2 separate regions of the Homo sapiens genome follow, and region 1 is linked to region 2. Evidence: fine-mapped expression QTL. Tissue or cell type: whole blood. Region 2 holds a variant in brackets; the other region holds the start of a gene. Each region is shown on its reference strand, or each on the opposite one. Region 1 holds the start of ERF (ETS2 repressor factor). Region 2 has its middle 7.4 kb from the start of CREBBP.

The links.
Region 1: ERF starts here. The variant in region 2 is fine-mapped to the expression of ERF in whole blood (TOPMed, PIP 0.98).

What each region holds. Positions count from the first base shown.
Region 1 is chr19:42,252,710-42,258,077 of GRCh38, reverse strand. It overlaps ERF (ETS2 repressor factor), which reads left to right and starts at 2,950. Exons shown (of 4, transcript NM_006494.4): 1 at 2,950-3,100. The coding sequence starts at 3,079. RefSeq lists enhancers at 1-104, 105-926, 1,722-2,253, 2,894-3,393 and silencers at 2,749-3,148, 3,159-3,848, 3,929-3,998, 4,089-4,208, 4,229-4,278 and 1 more.
Region 2 is chr16:3,885,473-3,890,840 of GRCh38, reverse strand. No RefSeq gene overlaps it. Among named protein-coding and RNA genes, the nearest start is that of CREBBP, 7.4 kb to the right of the region's middle. The variant C/T (reference allele first, on the strand shown) is at 2,135.

The DNA.
Region 1 (5,368 bases), not on the chromosome of region 2:
ATTGCTTGAGGCAGGGAAGTCGAGGCTGTAGTGAGCCATTATTGTGCCACTGCAATCCAGCCTGGGCAACACAGTGAGACCCCCATCTCAAAAAAAAAAAAAAAAAAAAAAAGAGGTGAACTGAGTTCACTTGCCTTGTCAGAGACAAGAAGTAGCAAAGGTTGGGTGTAACAGCCAGGTGTGGTGGCTCACACATGTAATCCCAGCACTTTGGGAGGCTGAGGCTGGCGGATCACGAGGTCAGAAGATTGAGACCATCCTGGCTAACACGGTGAAACCCTGTCTCTACTAAAAATACAAAAGATTAGCCGGGCGTGGTGGGGGGCGCCTGTAGTCCCAGCTACTCAGTAGGCTGAGGCAGGAGAATGGCGTGAACCCGGGAGGCGGAGCTTGCAGTGAGCCGAGATGGGGCCACTGCACTCCACCCTGGACGACAGAGTGAGACTCCGTCTCAAAAAAAAAAAAAAAAGGTTGGGTGTAACTCATCTCTGTCTTGCTGGTGGGAGGGTAGGGGTCACTGGGTTTGTTACTGATGTGTTATCTTTTTGTTTGTTTGTTTGTTTTGAAACTGAGTTTCGCTCTTGTTGCCCAGGCTGGAGTGCAATGGCGCGATCTCAGCTCACCGCAACCAACCCCCTCCCGGGTTCAAGCGATTCTACCTTAGCCTCCCGAGCAGCTGGGATTACAGACATGCACCACCAAGCCCGGCTAATTTTTTGTATTTTTAGTAGGGACGGGGTTTCTCCATGTTGGTCAGGCTGGTCTCGAACTACAGACCTCAGGTGATCCACCTGCCTCGGCCTCCCAAAGTGCTGGGATTACAGGCGTGAGCTACCGCGCCCAGCCTTTTTATTTATTTATTTTTAGACGGAGTTTTGCTGTTACCCAGGGTGGAGTGCAGCGGAGCGATCTCGGCTCACTACAGCCTCCGCCTCCTGGATTCAAGCGATCCTCCTGGGTTCAAGCGATTCTCCTGCCTCAGCCTCCTGAGTAGCCGGGATTACAGGTGCGCCACCACGCCTGGCAAATTTCTGTACTTTTAGTAGAGATGGGGTTTCACCATGTTGGCCAGGCTGGTCTGGAACTTCTGACCTGAAGTGATCTCCCGCCTCGGCTCCCAAAGTGCTAGGTTTACAGGCGTGCGCCACTGCGCCGGGCCCTGATGTAGTATCTTTGAAAATCTGCATTTTTTTTTTTTTGGAGGGGGTAGTAAAAGAGGTAATAAAGCATAATGGTAAAGGGTAAATGTGGTGGTTTGGAATTGGTTAGATCTGGGTTCGAATCTTAGTTCCAATACTTCCTGGCTGTAAGATTTAGTGGACTGATTTTCCCTCAGAGAGCATCACTTTCTTTATCTGTAAATGGGGATAACAGCAGTAATTCCCCTCGTTGGGATTTTGTGAGGATTAAATGAGAAGATGCCCCTGACAATGCTTGGCCCGGTGCCTGGCACATCATGAACACTCGGAATTCGGGAGCTGTTATTCGAACAATGAAGATGATTATTATTGCTGGACCACACCGCTCCCAGAGGGTTACAATATCCGTGGGGGAGCTGTACTGTCCGTAGGCAAGGTTACATAATTCCCGGGGGTTGTGGGGGAAAGCTTCCCTGGAGCCCTTGGTCTCCCCAAGGAGGAGGCCTGAGACTTTTTTTTTTAGGCACTGGTGAGGAGCCTGTCTAAGGTGGACTAGGTACCCCGCAAGCGAGGAGGCTGGGATTGAAGCCCTGGGTACCGGGAGCCTGAGCTCCGCAGGCCTTCCCTATCTGTGACTTTTCTGTCTCCCCGCCCATCTTCTGGATTCGTCCCCCACCCAGCCCCCCCAACTCCCGCCCGCCACCCATACGCCCCTCCTTCGGAACCTCAGAGTCTTTTTTGAGACTCTGTTTCCAGGCTATGCCTGTGAATATTGCTTCTATTTGGCCTCTACCCTGCTGCCGGCTCCTGGGCTCCATCAGATCTGCGCTGTGATTTCCTGTTTCCCAGAGCCTCAGGCTTCATCCTTCCCTCCCGGCTGAGGCAGAGAACGGAGACTTAACACTTCTCTACGCTCTGGCTTTCGATCTTAAGCCCTGTCTTCCTCTCTCCTGGCGACCCTCAGTGCCCCTTGGGAGCACATTTGTTCAGACTTTGGTCGCCCCCTCGTATCCCGGCCCCGCCTCCGGAACCCCCGGTCCTAGTAGTGGACGTGGGGGGACCTCCGGCGCCAGCCCTATCCCCGGGACAGCTGCAGCCTGGGGACGGTGGTGGTGGGGGCTTCCAAATGCATTCTCTCTGGTCACTTCCTCCCCAGCTGGACGGGGGTTATCAGGGAAGCCAAGACCCCATCCCCACAGGAGCGGAGGGCACAGCCGCCTCCCCATTTCCGATGCTGGGAAATGCATCCCACCCATTCCACCCCACCCCTGGACAGCTGCCCCCATTCAGGCTCAGGGTTGGGGGGTTGGGTAAAACCAAGCTGGGAAATGCTGTGGTCTTCATCATCTTCTAAGGTCCTGACCCCGCCCCTCTGCAGAGAAGATTCTGCCCCCTCCCCACAAAAGTTTCTGACCCCCGCTTCCTCGGAAGGGCCCCCCGTTTTCCCATACAGGCTCCCAAAAGAAACTCTGGAGCCCGCAGTGGGCAGGAGAGGAGGAGGGGCAGCAGGTAGCGAGTGCCGAAGACTTAAGTTAGCTGCAGACTCGGAGCCTCTGACTAGGGTCATGACCCGCGGGACCCCATCCCACCCCCACCCCCTCCTTCCTCCCTCCCCCGCCGCGCGGCCCCTTTAAGCCCAGAGCCGGCCGGTCCTCAGTGGCTGCGCGCCGACGAGCGTGTGTGTGAGTGCGCGGGGAGGGGGCGGGCGCAGTGTCTCCATGGCGACGCGGCGGTGACGTCGCCGGCCGGGGGGCGTGGGCGTCCCGGCCCCGGAGTGCGATATTAACCCGGGAGGCGGCGGCGGGGAGGGGAGAGGCTCTGAGAGGCGAGGCCGGGTGAGGCGGCGAGGGCGGCCCGACGGGCGCGGGACGGGACGGGGCAGCGAGGGCGCCGGGAGCCGCGGCCCGGAATCGGGGCGCTTCGCCCCGGGCCCCCCAGCATGAAGACCCCGGCGGACACAGGTGGGGGCGGGGGCAGCACGTGTGGGGGAGACTTGTTGCCCCGGGAAACCGAACGGAGAAACTTTGGGGGGGCTGAAGGGGTCCGGGGGAGCCCGAGTGATCCCCAGTTCTGGGGGACCCCTCAAGCACTGGAGACCTGTTGCTTCTCGTGGCGCGAGCGGGGTTGCTGCCTGGGACCCCCGATTCCTGGCTCCGGGCGGAGTGGTGTGGGTGCTGCGGGTCTTGGTCCTGTATCCCTACCGGGACCCCGCAGGCCGGGCTCTCCCCCACTCCCGGGATCACGGGGGTGGCGGGGTCCTTCCCCTCCGCTCTTGTCACGTTGCACTCTGGGGGCCGGGACGTGTGCGGGGCGGGGGGGCTCGTCCACCGGGCCCGCTATCCCTGGTTCTGCGCTGCGCGGTCCTGCTGGTGACCTTCACGGCGGCGCGTGCCCTGCACCAGGTTAGCGGGGGATACGGGATGGCCTCTAGGAGGAGGGCGTGAGTGGGGAGCCCGGGACTCGGGGTCCTGGCTGCGCCGCCCCTCCCCCGCCCGCCTCTGTCGGCTCCTCGCTCCCCCGCCCTCGCCGAGTCGCAAAGTTCCAAAGCGCAGCCCGAACGTTCGAAAAAGGAACTTTTTGTTTCCGACCTTAGAACGCGCGGCTTTAAGGTGGCTCCGGGGAGACCTGGGTACCCTCCTCCCGCGCCACCGGTGGCCCGGGGTTGAGGAGGGTGGGGAAGGTGGGGGGAGACGCAGAGGCTCCCCCCTCGCCCCCCCTCCCGGATCCACCTCTTCTCTTTCAGCGGGCCGTCTCTTCCCTCCGCCCCTCTCTTCCCCGCCAACTTGCTCCTCCTTAAGGGGCCAAGGTTCCCCTCCCCCTCGGTCGGCGGGCGGGGGGCAGCGGGATTAACTCCCCCTCCCACTCGGACTTTTCCCCCTCCCCTCCCCCGCCGCCCCCGGGCTCGCGCGGGCTGGACTTTGCGCCCGAGCGCGCAGGGGGAGGGGTCCCAGCCGCCCCCTGCCCGTCTACCCCGTCGGAATCCGGCCCGGGGCGGGGACGGGGGAGGGGGAAGGGGGCCGGGCGCCGCTGTTCAAACTTGTTTCCTTCCCCCGGCGGCGGCGGCGGCGGCGGCGGCGGCTCGGGCTCCTGTGTGCGGGTGTGTGCCCCGACCGGCCCACCCACCCCACCCCATCCCCACCCCATTCCCACCCCATTCCCATCCCCATCCCCCTGCTCGGCGGGTGGGGGCGGCTTAATCTTAAAGGGCTCCGAGCTGGGATCCGGCGCCAGGGGATTGGGACCCGGACCGAGGAGGGGCCCTGGGGGTGGGGCCGGGGTGCGGAGTGCGGTAGGGTCAGTCACGTGCGTCCTACACACTCCCCCGGCTTCCACTCGCTCCCGGGTGGCTGGGCCCTGGGGGCAGCAGGAGCCTACCCTCGCCCAAGGAGGAGGCCGAGGCACCCAGACAACCTCGCTTCATCTTCTCTCCCTGCTACCGGCCTTGGCCTGATAGGATCCGCGGGTCGCTTCCCCAACCCTGTCGGGGGGCGGGACAGTGTGTGGGTTTTCCGGCTGGGGGAGGGGAGGGGAAGGAGGCCTGGAATGGCCTCCGATCGGTGCATCTTTCCCGTCTGCCTCCTGGCCTGCCGCTCCGCACCCCTCCATCCAGTTCTCCATCCCGGTCCCTCTCTCTGCCGTGGCTGTTTCCCACTTCCTGTTTTCTTCCCGGCTCTGGCGCCATAGAGGGCCGCCTGGAGTGGGGGAGGTGGTGGGGCCCCCCAGGAGGCCGGCGTGTTCTTCCTCTGCCACCACTCCTCCCTTCCGACCCTCATAGTCCCTTAAAAAAAGTTTGGGCCGTCACGTGAGGTTGGGGGGTGCCCAGGAGTTTTGTCCCCCCAGGCTTGCATAGTCTGTCTGGGAGAATCCCTACCCCGCCTCTGTGGGACCCAGGTGTGCTTCTGGGACCTCGCCATCCCAGCCCTTGCTGTCTGACTGCTGCCACTTCTGCACTCTGTCTCGCAGTCTCCTGAACCCCTCTCTCCATGTGCCTGCTCTCTCCCTGCCTCACTGGCCCCCATGTTCCCGAGGTCCCGCACCCCCAAGCTTCCTCCGTGCAGGTCTGGTGTTTCCCTGTTTTAAGCACGTGGACGCATACACAGCACACTCACACATGCTCCCCTTGCCCGTGCCTGGCTCCTGGCTCCAAGGCCTGGGGAACAGAGCCCCATTGAGACACCCTGACGTCACCCCCTCTTCATTCTCCCCCCCCCAAAGCCGGGAACAGGCCT
Region 2 (5,368 bases):
AAAATGAGACTATGTCTCAAAAAAAATAAATAGGCCGGGTGCAGTGGCTCATGCCTGTAGTCCCAGCACTTTGGGAGGCCGAGGTGGGCAGATCACGAGGTCAGGAGATCGAGACCATCCTGGCTAACACGGTGAAACCCTGTCTCCACTAAAAATGCAAAAAATTAGCCGGGCGTGGTGGCGGGCGCCTGTACTCCCAGCTACTCAGGAGGCTGAGGCAAGAGAATGGCGTGAACCCAGGAGGCAGAGCTTGCAGTTAGCCAAGATCGCGCCACTGCACTCCAGCCTGGGCGACAAAGCAAGACTCTGTCTCAAAAACTAACTAACTCACTCACTAACTAAATAAATAATTAAATAAATGCAAATTGGAAATTCCCCCTACAGTTGAGGATGGCTATACTCTATGTGCCAGACATCTTCTGGATAGCCCTCGAATCGATCCCTTCACCCCTTTCCACGTTGCCCTGGCCTCAGGAGGCTGACTTGGACAGGCTACCATGCCTTGGGCTTGGGTTCCTAGTGGGCACCCTGGCGGGAGATCAGAAGGAAGGAAAGGCTGGGCGCATTGGCTCACACCTATCATCTCTGCACTTTGGGCAGCTGCAGTGGGAGGATTGCTCGAGCCCCGGAGTTTGAGACCAGCCTGGGCAACATGAGACCCTGTCGCTACAGAAAGTAAAAAAAAAAAAAAAAATAGCCGGTGTGGTGGCACATGCCTGTAGTCCCAGCTACTCGGTGGGCTGAGGTGGGAGAACTGCTTGAGCCTGGGTGGTCAAGGCTGCAGGGAGCTGTGATCGTGCCACTGCACTCCACCCTGAGACCCTGTTAGAAAGAAAGAGAGAGAGAAAGAGAAAGAGAGAGAGAGAGAGAGGAAGACAGACAGGAAAGAAGGAAGAAGGAAAGCCAGGCATGGGACTCACGCCTGTAATCCCAACATCTTGGGAGGCAGAGGCAAGGGGATTGCTTGAGCCCAGGAGTTCAAGATCAGCCTGGGCAACAAAGCATGACCTATCTCTACAAAAAAATTTTTAAAAAAATTTTAAAAAAGGAAACTGGCCAGGTGCGGTGGCTCACACCTGTAATCCCTGCACTTTGGGAGGCGAGGTTGGGCAGATCACCTGAGGCCGGGAGTTTGAGACCAGTCTGGCCAACATGGTGAAACCCTGTCTCGACTAAAAATACAAAAATTAGCCAGGCATGGCGGCATGTGCTTGTAATGTCAGTTACTCAGGAGGCTGAGACAGAAGAATCGCTTGAACCCAAAAGGTGGGGGTTACAGTGAGCCAAGATCACGCCACTGCACTCCAGCCTGGACAACAGAACGAGACTCCATCGAAAGGAAGGAAGGAAGGAAGGAAGGAAGGAAGGAAGGAAGGAAGGAAGGGAGGGAGGGAGGGAGGGAGGGAGGGAGGGAGGGGAGGGGGAGGGGGAAGGGAGGGGAGGGGAAGGAAAGAGAAGAAGAAAGGAGAGAAGGAAGGAAGGGGAAGGGAAGGGAAAAGGAAGGGAAAGGGAAAGGGAAGGGAGAAAAAAAGAAAGAGTGGTCACGGTATTTGGTCACCTCAAGTCAGCTGAGTCCCTCTGCAAAAGATCACCCCTCTCAAGATGACCATCTCTACACAATTATTTTCTTTCCGGGTCTGGGAAGCTTTCCCTTCTGTGTCCCTTTGGGCCTTGTGGCAGTAACAGCTCAGCTGCTACAAGCCCTAGGTTGCTGCCCTATCCCTTATGGTTTCCTTGCAACCCGCCCTAACTGTGTACGCAGTTCCTCTATGAAACCTTCCATAAGCTGGCTGATTCTACGGGGGCTCTGCCTGCTATAACCTTAAACCCAGGAAATCCACTTCTCAGTGTTCATCTGGTGATGCTCTTAGGTGCACAAGGAAACCTGTACAAGAACATTAATTGCAGCCCCGTTTGTAACAGGAAAAAAGTGGAAACAATCTACCAGTCCCTTAGGAGGAGAATAGATCAATAAAATGTGCTTTGTTCCTGCAGTAGAATACAAGACAGCGGCTAAAAGGAATGAACTGAAAGATAGCACTCATCGGGATGACTATTATCAGAAAAGAAAAGAACAAAACAGCATAAGTGTTGGTGAGGAAGTGGAGAAATTGGAACCCTTGTACACTGCTGG[C/T]AGGAATGTAAAATGATGCAGCTGCTATGGAAAACAGTATGGGAGTTCCTTATAGAATCAAAAGTAGAATTACCATATGAGACAGCAATTATCCCACTTCTGGGTATATACCCAAAAGAACTGAAAGCAGGCCGGGTGCGGTGGCTCACGCCTGTAATCCCAGCACTTTGGGAGGCTGAGGTGGGAGGATCACTTGAGCCCAGGAGTTTGAGACCAGCCTGTGTAACATGGCAAAACCCCATCTCTACTAAAATACAAAAATTAGCCGGGCATGATGGCGGGCACCTGTAGTCCCAGCTACTCGGGAGGCTGAGGCAGGGGAATCGCTTGAACCCCAGAAGCAGAGGTTGCAGTGAGCTGAGATCGCGTCACTGTACTCCATCCTGGTGACAGAGCAAGACTCCATCTAAACACAAACAAAAAAAAGAATTGAAAGCAGGGTTGGGAAGAAAAGAAATACATCCACGTTCACCACAGCATTAATCATGATAGCTGCATGGTGGAAGCAGTTCCGTATCCGTCAACAGATGAATGGATAAGCAAACTGTGGTCCATCCATACGATGGAATATTCATCGTTCATAAGGAAGGAAATTCTCTATGGGCACGGTGGCTCATACCTGTAAACCCAACACTTTGGGAAGTTGAGGTAGGAGGATCACTTGAAGCCAGGAACTCAAGATCAGCCTGGCCAATACAGCAAGACTCCAAAAAAAATTAGCTGGGCATGGTGGTGCACACCTGTAGTCTCAGTTACTTGGGAGGCTGAGGCAGGAGGATCACTTGAGCAGGAGAGGTCAAGGCTGCATTGAGCCATGACTGTACCACTGCACTCCAGCCTGGGTGACAGAGCAAGACCATGTCTCAAAAATAAAAATAGGCTGGGCACGATGGTTCACGCCTGTAATCCCAGCACTTTGGGAGGCCGAGGCGGGCAGATCACCTGAGTTCAGGAGCTCGAGACCAGCCTGGCCAACATGGTGAAACCCCCAACTCTACTAAAAATACAAAAATTAGCTGGGCATAGTGGCGGGTGCCTGTAGTCCCAGCTATTTGGGAGGCTGAGGCAGGAGAATCACTTGAACTCAGGAGGCAGAGGTTGTGGCGAACTGAGATCGTGCCACTGCACTCCAGCCAGGGGGACAGAGTGAGACTCCGTCTCAAAATAATAATGATAAAATAACATAAAATAAAAATAAACACAGGGCATGGGAGAAGAGGAAATGAGCCCAGCCTTTGTAGACACCCTGTTCAAGTTTCCTTAGCTAGGAATGGAAGAGACAGGGTGGAATCAGGGCTGAAGCTGAAGCTGACTGCCAATGTGTTTAAGGAAAAGGAGGTACTGGGGTAAGTAAGGGAGAAAAGATTCAGGGGCAGTGATGGTAAAAAGCAACAGCAGAAGCTCTTTAGTTTAATTAGATCCCAATTGTCAATTTTGGCTTTTGTTGCCATTGCTTTTGGTGTTTTAGACATGAAGTCCTTGCCCATGCCTATGTCCTGAATGGTAATGCCTAGGTTTTCTTCTAGGATTTTTATGGTTTTAGGTCTAACGTTTAAGTCTTTAATCCATCTTGAATTAATTTTTGTATAAGGTGTAAGGAACGGATCCAGTTTCAGCTTTCTACATATGGCTAGCCAGTTTTCCCAGCACCATTTATTAAATAGGGAATCCTTTCCCCATTGCTTGTTTTTCTCAGGTTTGTCAAAGATCAGATAGTTGTAGATATGCGGCGTTATTTCTGAGGGCTCTGTTCTGTTCCATTGATCTATATCTCTGTTTTGGTACCAGTACCATGCTGTTTTGGTTACTGTAGCCTTGTAGTATAGTTTGAAGTCAGGTAGCGTGATGCCTCCAGCTTTGTTCTTTTGGCTTAGGATTGACTTGGCGATGTGGGCTCTTTTTTGGTTCCATATGAACTTTAAAGTAGTTTTTTCCAATTCTGTGAAGAAAGTCATTGGTAGCTTGATGGGGATGGCATTGAATCTATAAATTACCTTGGGCAGTATGGCCATTTTCACGATATTGATTCTTCCTACCCATGAGCATGGAATGTTCTTCCATTTGTTTGTATCATCTTTTATTTCACTGAGCAGTTGTTTGTAGTTCTCCTTGAAGAGGTCCTTCACATCCCTTGTAAGTTGGATTCCTAGGTATTTTATTCTCTTTGAAGCAATTGTGAATGGGAGTTCACTCATGATTTGGCTCTCTGTTTGTCTGTTATTGGTGTATAAGAATGCTTGTGATTTTTGTACATTGATTTTGTATCCTGAGACTTTGCTGAAGTTGCTTATTAGCTTAAGGAGATTTTGGGCTGAGACAATGGGGTTTTCTAAAGAAACTACCATCACAGTGAACAGGCAACCTACAAAATGGGAGAAAATTTTTGCAACCTACTCATCTGACAAAGGGCTAATATCCAGAATCTACAATGAACTCAAATAAATTTACAAGAAAAAAACAAACAACCCCATCAAAAAGTGGGCGAAGGACATGAACAGACACTTCTCAAAAGAAGACATTTATGCAGCCAAAAAACACATGAAAAATGCGCACCATCACCGGCCATCAGAGAAATGCAAATCAAAACCACAATGAGATACCATCTCACACCAGTTAGAATGGCGATCATTAAAAAGTCAGGAAACAACAGGCGCTGGAGAGGATGTGGAGAAATAGGAATGCTTTTACACTGTTGGTGGGACTGTAAACTAGTTCAACCATTGTGGAAGTCAGTGTGGCCATTCCTCAGGGATCTAGAACTAGAAATACCATTTGACCCAGCCATCCCATTACTGGGTATACACCCAAAGGACTATAAATCATGCTGCTATAAAGACACATGCACACATATGTTTACTGCGGCTTTATTCACAACAGCAAAGACTTGGAACCAACCCAAATGTCCAACAATGATACACTGGATTAAGAAAATGTGGCACATATACACCATGGAATACTATGCAGCCATAAAAAATGATGAGTTCATGTCCTTTGTAGGGACATGGATGAAATTGGAAATCATCATTCTCAGTAAACTATCGCAAGAACAAAAAACCAAACGCCGCATATTCTCACTCATAGGTGGGAATTGAACAATGAGAACACAAGGACACAGGAAGGGGAACATCACACTCTGGGGACTGTTGTGGGGTGGGAGGAGGGGGGAGGGATAGCATTAGGAGATATACCTAACGCTAAATGACGAGTAAATGGGTGCAGCACACCAGCATGGCA